3 separate regions of the Homo sapiens genome follow, and regions 2 and 3 are each reported to be linked to region 1. Evidence: microRNA targets listed by miRTarBase, many of them from high-throughput screens and not tested one by one. Region 1 holds a microRNA gene; each other region holds the end of a gene's coding sequence.

Region 1 (3,188 bases):
CTCCTGACCTCAGGTGATCCACCCGCCTTGGCCTCCCAAAGAGCTGGGATTACAAGCATGAGCCGTCGTGCCCAGCTCATATCATTCTCAAAGGACTTTTGTAGCACACAGAATGGTTTCTAAATAATATTATCCATATCTTGACTAACACGGTGAAACCCCATCTCTACTAAAAATCCAAAAAATTAGCCGGGCGCGGTGGCGGGCGCCTGTAATCCCAGCTACTCAGGAGGCTGAGGCAGGAGAACGGCGAGAACCCGGGGGGCGGAGCTTGCAGTGAGCCGAGATAGCGCCACTGCAGTCCGGCCTGGGCGAAAGAGCGAGTACTCCGTCTCAAAAAATAATAATAATAATAATATCATCCATAATATTAGTTGATAGTCTCTTCATAATTCTAAATCCAGCATTTTTCAAAGCATTACCAATGAAGGAGAACTTTTAAGATGAAGCTAAATATAAAAAAAAAGTGAATTACTGCAAATTACTATACATAGTATAATTTGAAATTTTGGTAATATTGTCTAAGACAAATCATCCTTTTGGGATAGTTTTTTTCCATACTGTTCAAACTACCCTTCATCCTATAACGGCAGACATGGCCTAATGATTCTCATTTTTAATCAACAGTGTTGTCAGACATTTCAATGATTCTGAACATAATGTTATGACATTCAGGGCCAGAGAGCAAGCATTCTCTACTTGCTCTCAGCTGAAAGCAAAGAGGTTCTCAAGAGCTGCCAGCCTTTCTCCTTTATGCTCTGAAAGCCTCCTAAACTTGTCAGTTTACTTCCATTACCCTTTTATTGAAAACAATGAAAGAAAAAAAGTTACTACGGTGTTTATACTTTTAAAGTGAATGTCTTTTGTAATAAGGTAGAAATATCACAGAACCATCGAATGTTGGAATCAGAAGCATGTTTGGCATATCATCAAGTACAATAGCCACATCCTGCCTATGTGGAAAGCTGGAGGGGCTAAAGGACCTCTCAAAGCTACACATGTAGAGTCAGCAGCAGAGCAGAGCTTAAAGCAGCAAGTGACTCTTACGGCCATCAGTAATCACACTCTTGCTTAACATGCAAATGAATAAAGCTATTTTTATAAAATCCCTCCCCCCCCCATATATTGGCAGTAACTCTAAATTCTAGTCATTTTTTAACCATTACAGAATAAGATTAGAAGCATCAGTAGTTAATGGTGATAATAATTTCCATTTTATATGGGGTTTTATGGTTCACAAATATATTTTATAAAATAAGTTTCTAACATTTCATTTTCTTATATTGAGGGCTTTTAAAAGAAATAACCAAAACCTATTTTATTAAAATTTGATATTTAAAATTATAGTTGAGAATAGTGGAAGATTTTTCCCATTATCTTTGCTCTCCTGGATAGCAACCAGATAAATGACTTCCCAGAGAAATGCATAGAGTCATATAAGATAAAACGTCTTTTTTTCTCCATTTTACTCAGAGTTTGATGATGAACTATGACTGGATATTGAAATAATCATTCTTTTATCCTTTGTAGTAAGGCTTACTTTGTCCAGTGGCAACATGATCAGACAAGCAGCTCTCAGATGACATGTGACAATATTAAATTCAATCTTAGCAAGCAGCTTCTCAATTTCACACTTGTGGTAGCTGGATTAACCCAATTATTTTTTGGAGGTTAAGGGAAACTTTCACATTTGCAGAATACCATCCTTCAGAAACCGGAATGTAGGATTTTGTTATCTCAAAGAATTTTATGGAGATGGAAAGATCAGTTAGTATTAAATTTTAGCACACAATCAGATGAAGGGTTTAGGAAGAAGTAGATATGATTACCTAATAATTCACTTTGAGTTCTTCACTTTGAGCCTCAAAAATGTGTGAAACTTGGGACTTTTACTAAGCATATCTTTCAGGCAAAATATTTTCATTGTACCAGTTCCAAGCTCTTGGTTCTAACACAAAACCCCTGCTACACATACACACACATGCACTCACACACACACAGGCTACCTATATATACACCTGCTATGTGTGTGGATATGTATTTACACATACACATATCAGGTGTATACATACGTAGCATGTATATATACACATACACACACACGCACACAGGCACACACATACTTGTTACCTATATATGTATACATGCACATATCAGGTGTATGTAAATGTAACATGTATATGTACACACACGCACACAGGCACACACATACTTGTTACCTATATATGTATACATGCACATATCAGGTGTATGTAAATGTAACATGTATATGTACACACACGCACACAGGCACACACATACTTGTTACATATATAATTACACATGCACATATCAGGTGTATGTAAATGTAACATTTATATATACACACGCGCACACAGGCACACACATACTTGCTACATATATATACAGTCAGGTGCTGCATGATGACATTTTGCTCAAGAACAAATCACATACATGAGGGTGGTTCCATAGATTATAGTGGAGCTGAAAAACTCTAGTGGCATTGTTCTCATTGTGACATTAGTGCAATTACTTAATTTTTAAAACAAATTTAGTGTAACCTAAGTGTACAGTGTTTATAAAGCCTACAGTAATGCATAGTAACGTCTTAGGCCTTCACATTTGCTCACTGCTCATTCACAGATCCACCCAGAGCAACTTCTACTCCCACAAGTTCCATGAAAAGTGCCCTATACAGGGGTGGCAATTTTTTTTAATCTTTTATATCATATTTCGCTGTACCTTTTCTGTGTTTAGATATGTTTAGATATACAAATACCACTGCATTGTAATTGCCTACAGTGTTCAGTACAATAACATGCTATGCAGGTTTGTAGCTTAGAAGTAATAAGCTATACGACATAACCTAGTTGTTTAGGAGGCTACACAATGTGTTTGTGTTATGTGCACTCTATGATGTTCTCTCAACAATGAAGTCACCTAATGATGCATTTCTCAGAAAGCATCTCCATTATTAAATGGCACATGAACGTATTTGCTACATATATACATACTGGCTATAAACACACACACACACACACACACACTCACACACACCTGCTACAGTCCTTTCAAAGTATAAAAAAAGATACCAAAATGTGTTAGAGATTCGTTTGTAAAATGTAACTATTTTCGGACCAGATGGATTCACAGCCGAATTCTACCAGAGGTACAAGGAGGAACTGGTA
Region 2 (3,188 bases), not on the chromosome of region 1:
AGTGCACTGTTTCACGGGTCTCTTCTGGAATTTCTATCCCATAGAAATTCGAAGGTTCTAACACTCGAGTACCCAACTATCAGACATATATGTATTTAAATGTAAATTCCACCAGACACTGGATGAATTTATCATTTCCATTGATTGTCATGGTTAAGTATTAAAATTTAAGATAACTGTATCCTCAAGTGTGTGAGATTGTCATCTTATGTGATTAATGTTGTTTATCTGGAATTTAAGGAATATCCCTTCAATTTGTCTTTTTGTTCCTTTCTTTCTTACCTAGTTCGTAAGAAGAGAGTTGAAGCAGACCGAAGGTAAACTTCCTTGAGGAGAAGTGAAGTTTCACTGTGGTATGGCCATTGAAAAACAAAAACTCTTCTTCTTCCCCATCAGGACCATTTTATCAAAGTTCGTTCATTTCCGTTAACCACATAACTAATAATTTAATTGTTATTCTTTTTTAGCACTACTTATTTATCTTGGATTTTGTAATATATGCAATTGTTTTATTTGCTCATGGGCACTTCTGGCAACTTGACAAATGGACCGATGCAGATTTTAGAGAGTGACGACATGGAAAATGAATTTAACCACTTTCTTATTGGGTTGTCTTGCTTTCTTACATGAACTTGTTTTTTTAATCACTGAAAGGAATTTAGTGTATAATATGTGTTTGTAACTGTGATTATGATAGAGGCCTATCTCTGTTTACATGCATAGCTTTGAGTTAGGCTAAATACATCAGAAGTGTTCTACTGACCACATAAGAAGTTAGTATTGCCAATCTTTCACTGCATGTGAAAATGTGACCAATTTAGCACAAATTCTCTCTTAGTTCCAGAAAAATCAGTAAATGCACATGCCCTGTTGATTGGAGATCAGTAGTGTCATCTTCATAAAGCAAGACAACATTATGACACTTTAAAACAGTAGCAAAGAAGTCTATTTATTAACCCACAAATGTAGCATCAAGCCAGACTCACAGGTAGCAAAATGAATTACACACCTACTTTTACTGACTATTCAACATAAATTGAATCTTTAACATGACTTTAAAGGCTATTTACAAAGCTGTTTTAAAGTTTTTCAAACATGATAGAAATTTTCTAAATTTTAGTAAGAGAGAAGCTTTTAAAACAGTACATTCCTGAATAAAACAACAATATTGTATCTTAATCAAGGCTGTCTGATGCAGATGATTGCATTTTTTGGCAAATTTTAGAAGCATTTATTGCTTTGTCTTTAGTGTAACAAGATCACTGGATTAAATATAAACATTCAGGTTAATTATCTAGATTTTTGTCCACAGTATATGATCCATCCAGACATTTGCAAACGTCAGGAGAAAAATGTGAATTATTTATCCAGATGCATGTCATCTCAAGGACAAAGCCTGTGAAAGTACAAGTGAGATGGTTGCATTGTAGTATGCATTAATCTTTCAATGTAGTGGTGTAAAAATGCAGTGCTAAACTAATGAAGCAGGTGACTGCAGCCTTTGGCTCAAGCTCACAACTCTGATAACTGTCAGTGCCTGAGGTTGTGATTGGTGACATTCTGACACTGCCCAAGGCAACTCACCCTCTATTCCTCCTTTCTCCCCTCCCTTTCTTCCAATTCATTGTCTTTTTTTTCCTCTTTTCTCTGTAATTTGTTACTAAACAAATTCCAGAATTTGTTTAGTAGCTGAGTGTTCCTGAGTTGCCTAGTAGCAATAAAACAAGTGAATAGGAAAATAATTAATATATTATTCTATTTAGCTTGTAAAACACATGGAATCTGTTTAAGATAGCCCTTGTAAAATTGAACATTTACCTGTATTGTAAGTACCCACATCTGTGTCTCTGAAGTCCTTTGAAACATCTCATTATCTTGAAATTTTTTTAATGTTTGAGAACACCATAAGCAGAATATTCTAACACCTTTGGCCCCTGAAAATCCTTTAATTAGTTTATGGCTTCATCTCCTTATCTATTTAAAAAACATAGTAAATAATGTTTATGGTTTTCAGTCTGATTTTTCCTTCCCTTTCACCCATTTAGGTGTGATGTGTTGGAGTCAACTTGTACAGGCTTGCCAACTGTTATATTTTCAAGAATTTTGCAAACTGGTTGTTCAATACAGCCATTATTTAAAATTAAATGATGTGCACTTACAACTGAATGAATTATATTAAGGACAGAAGTAACAAATACTGTACTCAAAAATCTTACATTTTACTATTTTCTAACCTCTTAGATTATTTACATCTAGTAGGTATGTATGTAGAAATATTACCAAACAGTATGCTACTGAACGTATCCTCTCAACTCCATGTTCACTACCTTCTTGTTACTACAGTGGCTTGAAATTGGCCATGGTAGAAATATTTACACCACAGAAATTAGCAATATGTAAGAAATTGGGGTTTTCTCCCTCTCCAGATTGCTGGTTGATAAACATTCATCAGCACACCACTGGGTGAAATTATACATTTTTTTATACATATGTTTCGCTTATCATGTTGCCGAAGGGAAGAACATTTCTCTTAGATGTCTTTTCTCCTCTTTGGATTTGTTACAAACCTGTTTAAGTGCTGAGTCCCTGACCTGCCTCTCCAAGTAAGCCTTTTTCCTTTTTTTTTTTTTTTTTCTTACTCTCATTCTTGCCTTGACTCTTAAAATCCTGGACCCTATAGAGCATTCCTTGCAGCCCCACAGTGCTGTGGGCTGGGGGCTAAAGCAGTTCTTGGCAAACTCTGGCAGAAAGCAAGAAAAAAAGAATCAGAATTCAATCATGGCTGTTTCTTTTGTACAAGCAGTTGTTGATAGTATTAAAGCAAGATAATGGGACATTATCAAAAATATAGCACTGTTTTTACCTTATGAAATAGTTGGGTTGCATGCAACAGAGTCTATGAAATCAAATGTTTTTTACTAATCAGTTTGTTTTCTTATTACCTGTGTTTTTAAAGTGGCTTGAAAGGTGGCATTTCCATGAGTGTGCACATATTGATGATAACCCTTAGAAAAACATACACTTGAGGAGCCTATCCATCATTTAATTAGCCTAGGACTTCATCTCCCTCTCTGCCCAAAGTGTGGAAGTGGTAGCTCTTTCATGATCATGGGCACAGTTAATCCTTTGCTATCCATTGTGATGGGGCATAATGTATATAAAATATTTTTCTATGTATTTGTTCTGCC
Region 3 (3,188 bases), not on the chromosome of region 1:
AGGCAATCTATAGCAGGGCTAACAAAGTATTTCTATATCTCATGTCTATTAATTACCCTTCCTCCATCTTATATAATATTCCATCTTCAGTAATGAACTTTTATCTAATTAAGAAATCCCCCAGTTTATAAAATCTGAGGGCAATTTCCAGTGAACTTTGTCAGGATAGAGGAACCAAATGACCACAGGTATTACTGAGTTATAATAAGAAGGAGTAACCAATTAATCAGTATTATAACAACAAAATTGCTGCAAGGCAATAGGCTTCTGTAATTAAACATAAATCACAAAGGTATGGATTCAGGCATCAAAATAGTGACGTGATTTCACTGAGTATCAACTAGTATTTGCAAAGCTACTTGAATTTTTCTGTTGATCTTCACTTGTTGTTAAATAATGATAGTTTTGATGGTGGTAAAACTTCATTTTTCAAGTGCAGGATGATCTGAGCTGAATGAGAAAAAAAGTAATTAAGGGAGGGAATAAAGGTAGGCCTGGCATCAGTTTGAACAATATATTTTTTTCTTCTGTTTTTGATCGTAAGAGGGCTTATATCTCCAAGGTTACCACAATAAAGTCATAACCATGCCAGCCATTTTAAGGATTTCAGGATTAATCAAGACCAAGAAAGATGAAATGATGAATTACAAACCAAGCCATCACTACTACAAAGTTCCATGAGTGATAATTCTGTTACCCATATCCCAGGCAGCAATATGTTTAAATTACAAAGACAGTGACATATATATTGTCAAAAAATTTTACTGTTACTTATTATTTAAATTTAAAAATTTTATAATTTTACATTTTGTAATTATTTATTTAAAAGTGGCATATTTTATTAAAAGGAACACTGGAAATATGGATACTTTTTGAGAAGTAATCTTCATCTTCACTTGTAGATATTATGGAGAAACCAGATTTCTACATCAACTAATGGAAAATTAACCACTTATGAGCCTAGTTCCAATTCAAATAAAGGACATACATACAAATGTTAGGACTGATTCTGTCCATTCAGTTAAAATATTTCCATTCCTGAATTATTAGCTACTGAAATTCTAAAAATGCTCATTTTTCTGGGTATCTTAACTTAAAAGATTTATTAGCTGTTCAGATGCTGTTTATATTAATTGACATTTACAAAGAGCATAGAGACCAAAGACAATATACACTATAGTATGTAAGACCTTTATCTCCTTCTAAATGCTCTAAGCAAACTATAAAATTTAGTAATTCTATTTAGATCTTCTTAGATAACTTGCAGGTGTCTTGAGTGTCTCAGTCTGCTTTCTCTCTTCAAATTTTTTCCATTCTAAACAGCATTTTTTGCCTCCTAGTAATAATCCTGTAGAATTTTAAAAACAGACAAAAAAACACCAAACCCAGATTCTATGCTTTATTCATTTTGCATTAAGATGACCAAAGAAATAAAACCTAAATAAAATAAACATAAAATCATTTTTCCCTATTTAAATACTGATAATTTCTATTAACCCTATTTTTAATTTAGGGAGTTTTATATTCATATTGTCAAGATATCCAGTGCACAAGTTTCTGCAGAATCACTAATTTTATTATAAAGCTTCCTCTCCCCACACCTTAGGGGACAATGTATTTTCACTCTGACTTGTTTAAAAGACACAAGGAGGTTGGCATATTTTAAAGTTAACACATTTTTTCATTATAAAAACAGGCTTAGGTTAATGGTCACTCTCTAGCATTTGGTTACCGACTGACTGATTATCATATGTGTGCGTGTGTGTGTGTGTGTGTGTGTGTGTTTGTGTGTATATATATATATATATATATATATATATATATATATATATATACACATAGGTTCCTGACTTTCTACTACTCATTACTGTTGGCTGATGCAAAATTTGATTGTGCAACATACATCTCCTCAAGGATGAACAGGAAATGCAAAGATATAAAATTCAAAGTATTAATAGATGGTTTTGCTACTTTTTGTACTTTTGGTAAATGAGATAGTTGGAAGTTAGAGGCTATTAACTAAAATAAAATTAAGGAGTAAGTAAGTTACCTGTAAATTTCATTTACTCACATTAGGACTGACTGGTCTCTCTTTATTGGAGTTTAACAGAAAACAGACTGGACCATGACTGGCAGCTATATATTGGTCATTTTCAAATACTCCAATGACACTCTTCAATAACTTTATTATCTCCAGTTTTATGATGCCATACCATGTTTTTTCACACTGTTTAAAAATTTCCATTTCCATAATCCAATGCCAAAAAAATTACTACACATTCTCTTACACAGTCAAAAATATATTTACTGGAATGTTTTTAGTTATACCTGAGGGCAACAACATTTACAACATTTAGCTTTTGTTACACCTATAAATGTGGAAATTGCTTGCAAAACAACTGTAATATGAAAGGAACTATATTTCTGCAAATATTGACAGAATGGTTATGCATCTCTTTCAGCATATAATTTGGTACTCTACACAGGCTTCCTGACCCCCAGCATGACCCGCTCCCTAATGCAATAATGCAAGTCCTTATGCCATTAAAATATTAATATGAAATATTATAATCAGTGTTTATATACACAAATAATGAACTGGCAAGTATCTAGTTTCAAATTAGATCCTTGAAATATGGAAAAATAGAGGCTAGTTCTCTTTGCCTTAAACATAATTATTAAAAGAACATTTTGTTAGAAAGGGAGAAGATAATTGGACATTCTCAACGTTCCAATTTGAAGTGATACTTGCCTCTTAGTTTCTTGAAAAAGAAGTTTTGAAAGTTATATACACATAGGTTTCATTTAAATTATGCAGCAATCTTTTATTACTGTCCCAGATCTTGTTTAATGAAGATCTCTGTCATCAAATCAAGTACGGTATTTCATGACTATAAGAACTGTAAGAGAAAACATGAAAAAAGCAATATATCAACATCAGATATATATGCTATGTTTGAAGCAATATTCCTAAATGTAGTTGTGTCTACTTTTAGAAATGGGTAATGAGGATTGACTGAACTTTTATCTGAGGTAATAAATAATCAATGGGAAAGGAGAAGCAAAAAATATCATAAAACAACCTAAATGTCTAACATTGGCATCTTAAATAAATAATGGCATAGCCATAGCTTGTATCTGCTGTTAAAATATTACTAAAAATTTTGATAACCTGGGATAATAGTCAC

What was found. Region 1 holds the annotated microRNA hsa-miR-4789-3p (CACACAUAGCAGGUGUAUAUA, at 2,010-2,030, opposite strand). A microRNA usually pairs through its seed, bases 2 to 8, with sites in the 3' UTR of a target mRNA and lowers its output. Matches are read on the target gene's strand: a 7mer-m8 pairs with bases 2 to 8, a 7mer-A1 pairs with bases 2 to 7 and ends in A, and an 8mer does both.
Region 2: miRTarBase lists TMOD2 as a target of hsa-miR-4789-3p. Seed matches in the 3' UTR shown: 7mer-m8 at 670-676.
Region 3: the mRNA of VAMP4 is a reported target of hsa-miR-4789-3p. Seed matches in the 3' UTR shown: 8mer at 2,790-2,797, 7mer-A1 at 2,274-2,280 and 8mer at 1,834-1,841.

What each region holds. Positions count from the first base shown.
Region 1 is chr3:175,368,432-175,371,619 of GRCh38, reverse strand. It overlaps MIR4789 (microRNA 4789), which reads right to left and starts at 2,080; the gene lies at 1,999-2,080. The region is part of intron 5 of NAALADL2 (N-acetylated alpha-linked acidic dipeptidase like 2); the gene reads right to left.
Region 2 is chr15:51,808,134-51,811,321 of GRCh38, forward strand. It overlaps TMOD2 (tropomodulin 2), which reads left to right. Exons shown (of 10, transcript NM_014548.4): 10 at 287-3,188. The coding sequence ends at 321. Among named protein-coding and RNA genes, the nearest start is that of TMOD3, 20 kb to the right of the region's middle.
Region 3 is chr1:171,701,635-171,704,822 of GRCh38, forward strand. VAMP4 (vesicle associated membrane protein 4) reads right to left here. Exons shown (of 8, transcript NM_003762.5): 8 at 1-2,900. The coding sequence ends at 2,872. Among named protein-coding and RNA genes, the nearest start is that of VAMP4, 39 kb to the right of the region's middle.